Linked DNA regions of Homo sapiens. The main gene of each other region encodes a partner of the protein of the gene in region 2 in a complex. Each region holds a gene or a part of one and is shown on either strand. Other genes may lie near its edges.

Region 1 (7,395 bases), about 23 Mb from region 2:
ACACCACCAAATTTCTTGGCCTCAATTCAACTTAAGCCTCTGCCAATTATTTCCTGCAGAAACATAATAAAATATTCCTAAGATTGCTTCATGACACTCACAGCAATTTCCATTTGTTATTTAGCATTCATTAGGAGCCAATGAGATAGTCCTTATAACTCTAAATTCTACGCAGAACTTATCAATTCCCAGTGGACAATGTTGCTTTCTTCTCTACATTCTTTCCTCTGATATACATTCTCTTCTACCATAAAAACTTTTTCAAAAATGCACATTCTTAGCTTAACTTCCCAATCTAGATTCTCCATAAAGATAGTCTGGTGGCTCTTCATTAATCCCCTTCTGGGAGCACTGAGGTCGTGTAACTAGGAAATTGCTTATGATTAAGGGCCCTTCATTTAAATCTTGCTGACCTCACACAAAAAATTAAAGGAACAGTAATCTTTCCAAAACTCACATGAGAATACTAAAATAGTGGGAGAATGTGGCCTTGTACAGTTTCCACTCAAGGACTAGGAACTGAATCTCTGCACCCTTAAAACCACTCTCTTAGCCGGGCGCGGTGGCTCATACCTGTAATCCCAGCACTTTGGGAGGCCAAGGCAGGTGGATCACGAGGTCAGGGGTTTAAGACCAGCCTGGCCGAGATGGTAAAACACCATCTCTACTAAAAATACAATAAATTAGCTGGGCGTGGTGGCGACGCCTGTAATCCCAGCTACTCAGGAGGCTGAGGCAGAGAATTGCTTGAACCTGGGAGGCGGAGAAGTTTGCAGTGAGCCGAGATCGCACCACTGCACTCCAGCCTGGGGGACAAAGCAAGACTCCGTCTCAAAAAACACACACACAAAAAAACGCTCTCTTACTGATTCTACATACTTTGGAAACTTATCCAACCCAGAATGACCTCAAGACTGATTTTTTTTTTTTTTTTTTTTTGAGACGGAGTTTCGCTCTTGTTGCCTAGGCTGGAGTGCAACGGCGTGATCTCGGCTCACCGCAACCTCCGCCTCCCGAGTTCAAGTGATTCTCCTGCCTCAGCCTCCCAAGTAGCTGGGATTACAGGCATGCGCCACCACGCCCGGCTAATTTTGAATTTTTAGGTTTCTCCACGTTAGTCAGGCTGGTCTCGAATTTCCGACCTCAGGTGATCCACCTGCCTTGGCCTCCCAAAGTGCTGGGATTACAGGAGTGAGCCACTGCGCCCGACAGGCTGAATTTTTTTTTTTCCAAGAATGAAGTGACACAAATTAGGATCATGGTACTGAATCCGATGAAAATAACAGACTTAGTCCCCAGACTTTCCAAGCTGGGAAGGAAAAGGGAACCACAAAGGAGTTCCCAAAGCGTTAACCTTTCATTTAAATATCTCAATATTTGAATGATTTCTACACACAGCCTTTTTTAGCTTTTGTATGTGCAGTGACCAAACTACTAATCAAATACAACAAAACTGGGCGGGCGCGGTGGATGCCTGTAATTCCAGCACTTTGAGAGGCCGACGTGGACGAATCACTTGAGGCCAGGAGTTCAAGACCAGCCTGGCCAACATGATGAAACCCCGTCTTTACTACAAATACAAAAATTAGCCGAGTGTGGTGGCGCGCGCCGGTACTTCCAGCTACTCGGGAGTCTGAGGCAGGGGAATCGCTTGAACCCGGGAGGCAGAGGTTGCAGTGAGCCAAGATCGCGCCACTGCACTCCAGTTTGGGCGACAGAGCTAGCCTGTCTTAAAAAAAAAAAAGAAAAAAGAGAGACAGACTCCTTGGGTTTCCATTGGATACTCCCCAGAAAGCAGACCCTCACAGGACAAGCGTTTGCCTTCAAAGTCTTGACCATCCTCTACTAGACTCTAACCTCTAACCACAAACACCATAGTTATAAGATTTCCAAAGAGGCTGGGGAGAAGGAGGATAAATCAACCAGGAAACAATGTAGACAACAAGGTTATCAGGAAACAAAGTAGACAACAAGGTTATCAGGAAACAAAGTAGACAACAAGGTTATCAAGAAACAAAAAGAAACTGTCATTGCTACACTAGTTAAAATGATACAGACTTTGAAAAGCAAAACAGCCAAGAAACCACATGGTTCCTTTACTTCTGAAGCCTCTTGTGACAGGATCTATATTCCTAACAGTCTATATTCCTAGGAAAATTGGGATCACAGACGATCAAACAATAACTCACTGTTTTCATAACTTGACTGGTAAGTGGGGGGAAGGGAATTGGTAAACGACAAAAAGTGACTTACAGTGAATTTAATGATCTGTTGGGGATATGTGGGGAAGTCACGTCCCAGACATCAGCCTCAGTTTACCCACCCAGAAAAAGGCGAGAACATAACACTTCGCTCAGAAGAGCCAGAGGGCCTTGTTCCATAAGCCTCCACCTACTCAAAGGTCCCTTCAAAGGCTGGACTCAGTAGGGGTCCCCAGTGCAATTGAGGCATGACACCCGGAGACTTCGGGGTGGGGGGAAAAGGAGAAAGGAAGGAGGGTCAAAGTGCGCAAAGCTCTATCGGTTCCTGGAAAGCCATTTTCGCCACACACTGGGGGTGCCCTAGACCCAACATCTCCTCCCTAAAGAACCACACCGGGAAGCCCCAGCAACTCTCCCTCCTTTCGGCTTCTCCCTCGGTTCCGGGCTGCCCCTCCGGCCGCGCCCCTCAACGCAGTCCGGTAGCCCCTCCTCTGGCAGTGTCACGGCGGCCGGCCAGCCTGCCCACCCGCCGGCGCCAAGGTCTTCTCAACCCCGCGGCGGAAGGATGCCGGGCTGGGCCTCCCAGGCTCCTCCTGGGCCTACCTGCAAGGCAGACGGGAGCTCGGTTTGCAGTCCAGCGAACGGGCTGAGCCACAGGGAAAAAGAAAGAGGAGACAGGAATAAAGGAAGGGGTCCGTTCTACCGACCGGCAGGAGAAGGCGGCTTGAGCGCGGGGCCTCGCGGACAACTCAGCCCTCGACCCGGCGCCGCCGCCGCTCAGGAGACATCAAGCAAGAAGACGGCGCAAAAGATCACCGAATACAAGAACGCCCCAGACATCAAAGGAGGAACGCCCAAGCAATCGTTCAAGGAACCACAGCCGAGCGCCGAAAAACAGCTCAACTCCTACTCAAGGTCCGGCTCCTGTCTGAGGCGTAAATAAACAAACCCAGATCATAAGCCACGGGTTAAAAAAGAGCCTGCACTTCTGCCATTTTCTGTGGGTCGCCGGCTGTTAAAGTTCTTTAGAGAACTGGAGTTTCTCGTGAATGTGTTGAAGATCAAATCATAGCGCAATAACACTTGTTGTGTAACTATAGTCCCCCAACTGTTCTATGGACTCCCAACACTCTTTATCCCAATTGAGCAAATTAGTTAACCTCATTTGACCCTTAGTTTCCTAACAGAGCAGTGAGGGGAATTAAAAATCATAGAGACAGAAAACGAGAGAGAATTCAAGCTGAGGAACAAAATGAACAGTCTACGTAAAAGCTCCAGTTTAGTCCCCACAAAGCATGACCAAGAGAAGCTGGGAAAACCCAGAATTATGTAGCCTGACCTTAAGGCAGGGGGAAAAAAAGCACACGGATTGCTTTTCTCTTTTATTTTCTTCCAAAGGCCTAGAGCCACAGGTGTGCTTCTTACATAATAAGCAAAAGTCTCTTTGGGTTCAGAACCTGATAAAGTGTTGACATTTTCATCACCACAACAATGGCTTTTTTCTGTAGTCTCTTAGTTGATAAATGAATATGCTCAGCACAAATATGGATTAATATGTACATCCTAGATGTGATTCAATAAATCACAAAGATCACTGCAAGTATGGTTACCAATTGTGAGCAATCATAGTCTACCTTACCTGCTCCTAGGGAGGTTTACACCCTTCCCCACTACTCAGAGAGGAAGGGTGTAAAAAGGAAACAAGATAGTCCCAGTTTGTCGGGCGCAGCGGCTCACGTCCATAATTCCAGCACTTTAGGAGACGAGGCTGGTGGATTGCTTTGAGCCCTGGAGTTCAAGACCAGCCTGGGCAACATGGTGAGACTCCAGTCTCTATAAAAAAAAAATAAATAAATACAAAAAGTTAGCCGGGCCTGGTGGCTCCCGCCTGTAGGCCCAGCTACTCGGGAAGCTAAGATGAAAGGATATCCTGAGCCCGGGAGGTGGAGGCTGCGATGAGCCATGATCACACCATTGCACTCCAGCCTGATCTATGGAGCAAGACCCTATCTTAAATTTTTTTTTTTTTAAATGCCGGGCGCAGTGGCTCACGCCTGTAAGCCCAGGACTTTGGGAGGCCGAGGCAGGTGGATCACGAGGTCAGGAGTTTGAGACCAGCCTGGTCAAGATGGTGAAACCCCGTCTCTACTAAAAATACAAAAATTAGCCGGTCGTGGTGGCGGGTGCCTGTTATCCCAGCTTTTCGGGAGGCTGAGGCAGGAGAATCGCTTGAACCCAGGAGGCGGAGGTTGCAGTGAGCAGAGATCGTGCCACTGCACTCCAGCCTGGGCGACACAGCAAGACTCCGTCTAAAAAAAAAAAAAAAAAAAAAAAAAAAAAAAAAAAAAAAAAAAAAAAAGTCCCAGCCTTTGAAGACTTTAATTAAACTCAAAGAGCACATCCTTACAGTATTAGCCTTTTTTAAATAATGTATTGGCACTTTACAAAAATCTCCTCTAAGTCTTTGAAAATACTGCCCAGGCCGGGCGCGGTGGCTCACGCCTGTAATCCCAGCACTTTGGGAGGCCGAGGCGGGCGGTTCATGAGGTCAGGAGATTGAGACCATCCTGGCTAATGCGGTGAACCCCGTCTCTACTAAAAATACAAAAAATTAGCCAAGCGTGGTGGCAGGAGCCTGTAGTCCCAGCTACTCGGGACTACAAAAAAAAAAAAAAAGAAAGAAAGAAAACTCTCCTTCTTGGAGAGGCTTGTGGAGCATAGCTATAGCCCTCATTCAAATTTTACTCAGATAACTACATTGTTTTTGTTTCTTTGTTTTTTGAGACGGACTCTCGCTCTGTCGCCCAGGCTGGAGTGCAGTGGAGCGATCTTGGCTCACTGCAACCTCTGGCTCCTGTGTTCACGCCATTCTCCCGCCTCAGCCTCCCGAGTAGCTGGGACTACATGCGCCCGCCACCACGCCCGGCTTTTTTTTTTTTTGAGGATTCTCGCTCTGTCACCCAGGCTGGAGTGCAGTGGCATGATCTCGACTCACTGCAAGCTCCGCCTCCCGGGTTCACGCCATTCTCCCGCCTCAGCCTCCCGAGTAGCTGGGACTACAGGCGTCCGCCACCACGCCCAGTTAATTTTTTGTATTTTTAGTAGGGATGGGGTTTCACCGTGGTCTCGATCTTCTGACCTTGTGATCCGCCCGCCTCGGCCTCCCAAAGTGCTGGGATTACAGGGGTGAGCCACTGCGCCCGGCCACGCCCGGCTAATTTTTTTGTATTTTTAGTAGAGACGGGGTTTCACCGTGTTAGCCAGGATGGTCTCGATCTCCTGACCTCGTGATCCACCCACCTCGGCTTCCCGAAGTCCTGGGATTACAGGCTTGAGCCACTGCGCCCGGCCAACTACATTGTTTTGAAACCTTGATTGCAGTAAAAAAAACTAATTTCACTGCTCTAGACATTTTCCTTTTTTCAAAAGCTGGAGACTTTTGAGTAAAACACCTGAAAGTTCGGCAAAGATTTATCTAAAATCATCATCTGAAAATGAAAATATTTGCAACGCTGAGTCTAGACTGCTTTGTGAGACCATGGAAAGGGTGGCTTATTCTATGGGCAGAGTTGCACCTTTACAGATAAATTTCCTTTAGAGAACTGTTCTTTTCAAATATGTATGTATATATATGGATTTAAGCTTCAGTTTGACAGCAAACTACTGCATGTTCTTATGGAAATGTTTATTTAGACTGAAGAGTGGATCACAAGAGATCAGGAGTTGAAACCATCAACCTTGCGGGAATCTCCTCACACTAGAGGAAAAACTGTAAAAAAGAAACAAGGCCAGCAGAAGTGAAGATCATCCTGGGCTGTACCCCTGATGTTCCTCATATTGATGTTAAGACTCAAGAACTCATTATGGTGTTTACTGTTGATCACTGAATTCTGGTAGGACTCTCCTCATGGAGCCACTCCCCTGAGGTAGGATGGTGCTTCCCTGAAGTAGGATAACCAGTCTTAGTTTTGCCCAGGACTGAGGAGTTTCCCTGAACATGGGACTTTGAGTGTTAAAACTGTGACAGCCATGGGAAATCTGGGACAGTTCACTCTTAAGCATGGACCTTGCCCCTGTCAATCACATGGAAAAAACTTTGGAAAGACTAAACCAACAAGAGGTCAGGTGTGGCAGCTCACACCTGTACTCTCAGCACTTTGGAAGTCCAGGGCGGGAGGATAGGTTAAGTCCAGGAGTTTGAGACCAGCCTGGGCAACATAGTGAGAACCTGTCTCTAAAAAACAAAAAAATTTTTTTAATTAGCAGGGAGTGGTGGCATACACTGGCAATCCCAGATGTTCAGGAGGCTGGGGCAGGAGGCTCACCTGAGCCCAGGAGGTCGAGTCTGCAGTGTGTCATGATCACACCACTGTACTCCAGTCTGGGCAACAGAGACAGTGAAACCCTGCCTCAAAAAAAAAAAAAAAAAAAAAAGAGGATGAGGATGGGACACACTTGCCTAGGAGACTTGCCTGGAATGAAGGGTGAAGGAGGGAGGGGAGAGAACAGGGAATTGGAGACTGTTCCTTATCTTGGCTCTGGGTTCTGAGAAACATGCCTCTACCACACACTCGGTGGTAGAAATCAGGTTTGACCCTAGCGTGAGATAATTCTGTAATGGTACCGTGAGTCATCTTACTAGGAAGTGCAGGAAGACCAGTCAGGCCTTGAACAGCTGAAATGGTAAGCCAGTTGTCAATTCTGCCATTGCAATTCTGTTCTGTTCTTTTCTAGCCGGTTCTTTTTGTGCTGTGGGGTAATGTATACACTTGATGATGGAATGGTAAAGGTAGTAGTATAGTGACGTAGGAGCAGCCCAGGGAAGGAGAGAGAGCCCAGAACAGCAGGGAACTGCTAGCCGTAGAATGATAGAAGGCTCTCCCTTCTTTGGAATTATTTCTATAAGATAAATCTCCAGTGATGAAATTTATCAATAGATCAAAATGTATGAATATTTTAAGGCTCTAGAATGACAAAGAAATCAGCCCATCTGTAAAAGACAGCATAAAGATTAGAGAAAGTTAACATGTCAACAGAATAATAGATCCTTAATGTTTTGCTGGGCAAACAGGGAGGCCCCTTTTTGAAATTTGCTAATTTATGATTTCAAAGTCTAATCTCCTTTCTCCTGTTCAGTATCCAGAGATCTAATTTCTTCTACTTTACAATCACAAGAGGCCTTCAGTTGTAGTCA
Region 2 (7,963 bases):
ACAATCCAGGGCCTCTGCTCACCAGAGCTGGAAGAGCGCTCTCCAGCGCAGGAGGGGGTCTGGGGACATCTTCCCAGACAGCACCCAGGTGGAGAGCAAGAAGCCGGCCAGGGTCACCTAAGGAGCCGGCTCTCAAGGGGAGGCCGGGGGCTGCCGGGCCTGCCCTACCTGTGGCACAGAGGGCAACGAAGGTCTGCGCGTGTTTGCGGATGATCTGTTTGTTCTCCTCCGCCTCTGGCATTTTGGAGAGGAAGTGTTCAATGAAATCGTGCGGGGTCATTGCGGCCAGGTTCCACTTGAGCTTGTTCACCAGGAGCAGCTCCATTTGCTGCGAACACAGGGTGAGCGGCCATCAGGGGAGGTGCGGGCCAGCCCGGGGGCGCGGGGAAGCCGGCAGCACGGGGGCCGGGCCACGCCGCACCTCCGGCTCAGAGCACTGGCCCCTGCGTCTCGTGCGGTCCTGGATGTTGGAGGGGAGGGCTGGCGAATGCTGGGGACTCAAGGGAGCTGGGGCAACACGCAATCCCAGATCAAAACAGAAAAGGCGCCCGCCGCGTGAAAAGACTCTGCAAGTGGAAACAAAAAGACCTCCCACCACCTGGAACTGGAGGCTCAGCGCCGAGCGCGGCGCTCCTCGTGCAGCCGCTGGAGGGCGCGCGCCGCCCACTTTTCGGCCACACCGCGGGGCGCGAACGCGGTGGGAGTCGCAGGCAAGCGCACACAGGGCGGCGGGACGAGGGCGGCTAGGATCCCGCCCGCTCCCCGGACAGGGACGCCCGGCGGCGGGGCCGCCCTCCCTCGGAGGAGCAGATATGTCAGAGGCGGGCCGGCCGCCACCGCCTGCACCTTCCCCGGCCCCGTGGTCCTGCGTGCGGCTCGCGGGGGGCGGGGGGCGGCGGGGTCCAGTGGTTACCAGCAGCTCCTCGGGCCGGATGGAGTTGTCGGTGTAGATGCACAGCTTCTCGGCCGTCAGGGGGATGGTCTCCTTCATCTTAGAGGCCACGAACATGCAAGTGGCCCCCAGCAGCTGCAGGCGGCTCTTTTTCACGGGCTCCAGCGACAGGAAGCGGTCCAGGTAGTTCATGGCCAGCGGGAAGACCTCCTCCTCGCACTTCTGTTCCTCGCAGACCTACGGAGGCACGGGGCCCGTGACCGCCGCCGCCAGGTCGCGCCGCCCCCCCGCACGCCCCCGCACCCCCCATCGCGCTTGGCAGGGCCGCCAGGTCTGGAGGGCGCCGAGGGGTCGGGGCTGGGGGCGGCAGGAGCTTCCCGTGATGCGCCCCCTCCCCCGCGCGTCCCCAGTACCCACCCTCCCCGAAACTGAAAGGGAAAGTCCCCGCGAGGCTGGCACGGTGGGGGCGGGAGCGGGCACAGCTGGGCGGCGTGCGCGGCGGCGCGGGCTGCCGGCCCCCGGGACCCTGGCCCGCCCTGGAGCTCCGTGGTCCCTCTGACTGGGGGTCGACACCAACTGGGGTGCGGGGCCGCGGAACGGGCCGCGGGGTTGGGCGCCGCGCCTGCGAGACACAAAGGTGGCGTCCCAGGCCGCCGCGCCGCATTTCCCCAGACGTCATCTTTTCAAAAAATATTTAAAAATATTAAAAAAATAACTAAGTGCATAAAAAAACCCTGAAAATGACCCTCGGGCGACCCTTTACCCAGGCCGGGGGTTGGGAGTTCGTTACAGGCTCCGGGGGGAGCCCCAGGAATTCAAACTCCGGGGCCCCCCCTTCCCCCTGGGCGCGGGCGGCGTTTCCCTCTCGCAAGGGCACCACGCCGCACTTTCAAAAATTATTTTAAAATACTTGCGGGCCCCTCAGGCGCCCACCGAAGGTCTGAAAATGTGCTCCCAGGCCCCCGGCTCGCTCGGAGAAGGTCCTCCAAGCCGATATCCCTGCAGACGGGGATCAAGCCCTGGCGTCTTGGGGGCCACGCGACCTTGCAGCTCGCCGTGCTCTCCGGCCCAGGCTGCCCGTTCGGGGCGCCCCGGGACTCGCTGCTTGAACAAAGGCCCCCCCTTCCCTAGCGGCGTCCCCCCAAAACTACCCATGCCGCGTCCCTGCGCCCCTCCCGCGGGCTCCCGGCAGCCGCGCGGCCCTTAGCTGCGGCCCCAGCGCCCGGCGGCCGCTCCCCGCCCCCACCCTGCCCCCAATTATTAATAAACACTTTTGCTTTGCAATAAAAGAGCAAAGATGGCGCATAATACTGGCACGAGCGGCCCTTGCATACGTGTCCATGGATATTAATTTAAAAATCAAATCTATGCCCCCTCCCCCCGGAGTTGGCGGCTCCCGGCCGCTGAGGCGCAGCCGGGCTGGGGCGCAGGCGGGGGACACAAAGCGCACCCAGCCTGCCAGCCCGCACCCTCGGGCCCATTGGGGTGCCCCTGGCACTGGCTTCTCCCGAAGGCACCCCTCCCGGACCCCCTTCTCCCCTCCCACGAAACGCTACTTCTAGCACCCCCACCCCCACCCCTTCCTCCTTCAGAAAATACCCGCAATTTTTATTTTGAAAATACGGATCCCTAGAAACACCACGGCAAACTTCAAAGTTCTAGCGGGAGAGAAGGGAGGGGGGTGAGTAGCAAAGAAACGTGGGTCTGGGCAACAAGTTGCAGGGAAGTCTTAAGAGAGCCGCCCGAAGCCCCGCACCTCCAGCATCCAGGTGGCGACGATCTTCCGCATGGACGGCAGGACCTCCTTCTGCACACATTTGAAGTAGGACACCGAGGGCGCGCAGGTCTCCTCCGCCTTCAGCATGGCCCGCAGCACCCGGTCGTTGAGGAGGTTGGCATCGGGGTACGCGCGGCGGATGGTTTCCACTTCGCAGCACAGGAGCTGGTGTTCCATGGCTGGGGCTCTTCCTGGGCAGCTGGGGAGGGCTGTGGGTCCTGGCTGGGTCCGCGCTCGGCTCTCGCTTCTGCTGCCCCGCGCTCCCTCGCGCTCTTCTGCCCCTCGCCGGAGCGTGCGGACTCTGCTGCTCGCTGCTACTGCGCCGACAGCCCTCTGGAGGCTCCAGGACTTTGCAACTTCAACAAAACTCCCCTGTAGTCCGTGTGACGTTACTGTTGTTAAGCAAAGATCAAAGCCCGGCAGAGAATGGGAGCGGGAGGGGGGCGGGGGCGGGCGCAGGGGGAGGGGGCGCGGGCGCCAAACGCCGGGAGCAGCGAGGGGCAGAGCCCAAAAGCCATCCCTGAGGCGCCGCGCCTGCCCTGCGGCGGAGTTGCCCCTGTAGTCCGGTTTTCATAGAAATGCAAATCGCCCCGCTGCAGCCTTTCTCCCCGCCAGGGAAGAGGGGTGCAGGGGGCCCCGTCCGCCTCGAGTGGGTCCCCCGGGATTTAGGGGGTGAGGTGGAGGTGGCTCTGCAGTAGGGGACAACTAGGAAGGCCGGCAGGCCACACGCAGCCTGGGGAGACCACGAGAAGGGGTGACTGGGGCGCGGCGACACCCCATATCCAAGCCGGCAGAATGGGCGCATTTCCAAGAACGCCACGAGGGCACCCACGGGCGGACAGACGGCCAAAGAATCTCAGCGACTGCATCTTCTTTCATTTTCATTAACACGTGTAAATTGCAAGAACTAATTTAGCATGCAAGGACGGGGAGGACCGGGCACACAACCCCTGTGCAAGTTTCATTCCGGCGCACAGGGGCGTCGTTGCAAATGCCCAAGGGGGTAACCCTAAAAGTTAAAGGGATTTCAGCTTAGCATGCGCTCGCTCAAAAAATAAAATAAAATAAATGCCCGAAAATTCCAGCAGCAGCCCAAGATGGTGGCCAGCATTTCCTTCATCTTGTCCTTCTAGCCTGGAGACTCTTCGGGCTGCCTTCCTACCTTGACCAGTCGGTCCTTGCGGGGGTCCCCAACTGCACCCCCTCCCTTCCCGTGCCGGCAATTTAACCGGGAGAAACACACCTCTGAATGGAAAGCTGAGAAACAGTGATCTCCATTCTGACTCATTTTTTTTAATTAAAAAAGAAATTAAATTGCTGGAAATATTAGTCCCCTCTGCCTGGGACAAGACCACCGAAGGTTCCTAATTGGTTTTGTTGGGGGTGTAGACGTCCCTTCACCTTTAGAATTTGCCCTGGGACTGAATTCGTGAGCGTGAGGGGGCTGGCAGGAGCCGGCATAATTCAGAACAATTATCAATTAAACAAACGAGTGTACTGATCTGATTTTTAGCAAAATCGATAGGTGTTCGTGGTTACATGAGAGGGTCCCCAATATTATCGCAAACTTAAGCAGATGTAAATTAAAATACACAGTTTTTAAAATTACAGGTTCTGTCTCTTTGGTGCATTAAAAAATAAAAGGACATTTTACTGTCTTAACTTTTGTTTTTATTTTTACAGTACCTGCCCCAAATTAAGAAAACTGTTCATTTACTTCCTTTTGAATATAGTTCAGTGTCATCAAACCACCGTACCCTCTTAACAGTAAAAGCTCAAAGAAAACTGATAGAAAAAGCCCTCTCCCCTTCGCCAGGGTGCTCACAGCAAGATGCGACCCCCCCCACCCCCACCTTTCAGGGTGAATTCCTCCCGCGCCCCCTCCCCCGCCGGGAATTAGGATTACTAATATTCCGGGTCCTGGGGGGGTAATTACCCCCGGATTCCGCATGGGGAGCGATGGGTTGCCCCAGCAGGGAGCACCTACGGTCGTGCCCCCCCCCACTCCCCGAGCACCCACAATCGCGTTGGCCCCCGCATAGCCAAGCCTCAGAGCATCAGCCCGCGCACAAGGGCGGCCCAGCTGCTTTTTCATTCATAAAATCCCGACCCGGCGGCCGCCTGGATGATTTATGGGGCCCGGAGCTATCACCCGGCCTCTCCCATCCCGTGGGGCGAGGGGCCCCGAGCCCCGCGTGCGCCCTGGCCCAGCCCGAGGCGCGAAGCGGGCCGAAGTCGGCTAGGGGCAGCAGGGCATAAAGAGGCTCGCCCACTCCGGCACAACCGGCTCTGGGTCCAGGAGGGAGCTTCACCCCCCCATCCCGGGCGCAAGACAGAGGAAACTGGAATTAGCATGAGCCAATGGGGGCGCGGCGCTGTTACTAGGCGGACCGGGCAGATCTCGACTAGGAACTTCGTTGATTTCCCGGCTCAGGGACGAGCGCAAAATTGCAAGCCCGGTTAGCGAGCGTAAAGAGCCGTCCAGGAACCCGCGGGGGAGGCGCTGGAATTTGGGGCCCGGCGCTGGAATTTGGGGCCCGGCGGGGAGCGCCAGCTGCCCAGCCCCCACCTGGGGGAACCCTGCTTGGCGGCCCCCGGGTCCCCCGAGGGGGCCAATACCTCTGGGCTTTTGAGGGTCATTGCTTCAAGAAGCGCAGAGAAAGCATTTTGATTTTATTTTTTCCAAAGAGAAAAGCAACTTTAAAAAACTTTTCGGTTGCAGTTTTACTTTACACTGTCTTCTTAAAACCCACCACGAAGCAGGAACTGCGGATTCTGGGCTCATTTAAAGTGCTCTGTTCTTATTTCTTGGTGACCATTTGGAGACAAAGGGCAAGTGGCCCAGTCGGGAGGGTAACCACGTTGTTTGAAAGAAAATCCAAAATTAACTGAAATCACCTTCACGCTTTCCTCGCCCCCTGGCCCCCGCCCCGGTGACCGCGGCCTGGGCGGATGGTCGGTCAGGAGAAAGCGAATTCCGCTGCAGGCGCGTGTTCGCCACCGTCCCTGGCTGTGGGAACCTTCATTCAGGCGGGGGAAGGGAGCGCGTTCATTCAGGAACCGGCGCGCCGCGACGCAGACCCCGGGACTCAGCGCGGCTGCGCGCCGCGGGGCTCGGGGCTTGGGTTGGGGGCGGGTGGTGCAGGGACCAGTCCCGACCTTTCGCCAGCGACCTCCCGCACCCGCTTTTCCACCAGGGCGGCTGGCGGGCGGGCGCACCCAGGTGGGGTCACCTGCAGCCGCATACCTGGCGGCGACTTGAAAGGACTTGGCTCAGGCTCCGCGAGTTTTCCATTGTTAAGCCCTTAAGTCGCCCGGGAAAACGCTTCCGAAAGCCGGCCCCTGGGCTCCGAAGGCGCTCGAGCTCCCCTTCCCCCCACACTGCTTGCTTTTGGGGTGCGCGTGGCGGCCCACGTGCTATGGCAGCTCTGCTTCGCTTACGTAGCGCCGATCCCAGGCGCCCCAAAACTGCGAGGTGGGCCGGGGCGAACTCCGGCCCCAGTGCCCACCCGAGACAGCCACACGCTCGGCACATGGACAGCCGCACCGCCCCCCCCATCGCCCCAACCGCAGACGTGCGTTTCCGCTCCAGATCAATTAGTTTCAGCCACACACAGACCACCCTGCCACCGCCCCTCCCGTGCCCCAGTCGTCTGTCCGGCGGGCTGCGGGGAAACGAGACCCCTCCCCTAGCTCCGAGGGCTGCCGGCAAGGTGTGCGCTGGAGTTAAAACGCAAACCCAACAGGTAGGGGGGCGGCCCTGGCTCCAACGACGCATCTGGGATCCCGAGGCTGAAGGCGCAACTCTTGAGGGTTAAAGGCGATTCTAATTCCTCGACTCCCGCCCCTCAAAACGCATCGGCTGGTACCCTGAGCAATATGAACCCCCAAATCCACCAGAGATTCCCTGGCCTTCCGGCCCCAGCCCCTCTCAGACCAAGTGGTGGGGAGTAGGCGCCCAGATCGAGAAGAAAACCACTTCCGACCACAGGAGAGAAAGCTGGCTGGGGGTGACCTCGGAGGTCACGTTCGGCCCTCTCCCCCGCAGTCAGGCCTGGCCGCGGCCCACCCGAGGCTGAGCAGACCCCCGCGTCGGACGGAGACGCAGGGCTTCGCTGCGGGACTCGCGGGGCCTAGGAAACCTGCGGCGGCGGCTCGCGGGAGCCGGTTTTCCGGCGGAGGATCCGCGCTGAGGCCCTCGTGGGCTCCCACGGCATGCCCCACTCCGGAACTTGCCGCGCCCTCCCCCGCCCTTTCCGGAAGACTGCGGGGAGGACCCCGCATCCCCGCGCCTCTCCAGCTCGCTCCTCAATGCCCTTGGAACGCTTGAAAGCGCTTCCATCCCTCGCTTTGGCACTTGGGGGTGGGTGGAGGGACAGCGGGGTCGTTATTACGGGGCGCCTTAGAGTTCTGGTTATCCGGACACTCAACAAGCAGGGGAGGGGAGGGAAAGGGAGTTTTTTTCCAGGTGCGGGGAAACGGGTTGCGTACCTAATGCCCCGCGCCCTTCCCCTGGGGTCCCTGGAGCCCGTGCCTTAAGGGCTGGGGGCAGGACTCGGATTCGGACCCCTTAGGGAATTCTGGGTCCTCAGGGTCTGAGGGACTGATGGGCCGCGCTCGGTCCCCAAGCCCCTTCTGTGTGTTCACGCGGGGCACGACTTGCCCAGCGAGTTCTGGGCGGCAGGGCCAGGGCCGGGGTGCGGCTGGGAGAGGTGAGGGGAGGAGGCGAGAGCGCGCGCCGCCGGACCCTGGGCCGTGGCTCGGGAACCGCGCGAGGCCGCGCCGCGCATTCCGCGCATTCCCGCCGGGCCTCGGTTCCACCGCCACGTGGTTGCCCTGCGTCCGCGTTTACCGTAAGGCTTAGAAAAAGCGCGCATTACGGTTCCGGAGCGCATGCGGACCTCCCAGGACGCTTAACTCGAGCACCAGTCCAGCTGTGGTGCCGAACATACTCCTTCCCTGCGGGTAGATAGGGGCTGCTTTTTTACGTAATAAGGCGGGTTGTACTGCTGGAGCGATAGCATGTTCATCTGTAAAGACGGGCAGGAAGGAGTGTGCTCGGCCCTACTGGAATCCGTAATAAGGCGACTGTCCGGCTGAAGAAAGTGACAGAACCGGGCCGTGACCATTCCACCTTCTCAGCGGTGGTAAAGCACCAAATAGCAGCTGCAGCCTTCCGATGGCGTCCAGTGCACTGTGGCTGGAAAGCTCGGAGCAAGAAGGTGCTTAACAAATAGGAAAACGTCCAGAAACTGCCTATAGCTACATTTTATTTTTTTTTTCTTGAGGGTCAC

What was found. The genes of interacting proteins can lie anywhere in the genome.
Region 1: the proteins of CCND1 (region 2) and AMBRA1 are in contact, whole or in part, in a cryo-EM structure (PDB 9IVD), measured with the Homo sapiens proteins. Residues at the interface, in NP_444284.1 of Homo sapiens: Thr286, Pro287, Thr288, Asp289, Val290, Arg291, Val293, Asp294, Ile295; in NP_001354397.1 of Homo sapiens: Arg54, Ser55, Phe57, Val73, His75, Arg96, Thr97, Trp99, Leu116, Ala139, Arg184, Ile945, Asn1012, Asn1029.

The regions. Positions count from the first base shown.
Region 1 is NC_000011.10:46,591,024-46,598,418, forward strand, and holds the start of AMBRA1 (activating molecule in BECN1-regulated autophagy protein 1), read right to left. Parts: upstream 3,001-7,395; 5' UTR 2,805-3,000; intron 342-2,804; exon of another isoform or gene 102-341; intron 1-101. UniProt on the Homo sapiens protein: Substrate-recognition component of a DCX (DDB1-CUL4-X-box) E3 ubiquitin-protein ligase complex involved in cell cycle control and autophagy.
Region 2 is NC_000011.10:69,636,197-69,644,159, reverse strand, and holds the start of CCND1 (G1/S-specific cyclin-D1), read right to left. Parts: upstream 3,005-7,963; 5' UTR 2,847-3,004; coding exon 2,649-2,846; intron 1,130-2,648; coding exon 914-1,129; intron 329-913; coding exon 169-328; intron 1-168. UniProt on the Homo sapiens protein: Regulatory component of the cyclin D1-CDK4 (DC) complex that phosphorylates and inhibits members of the retinoblastoma (RB) protein family including RB1 and regulates the cell-cycle during G(1)/S transition.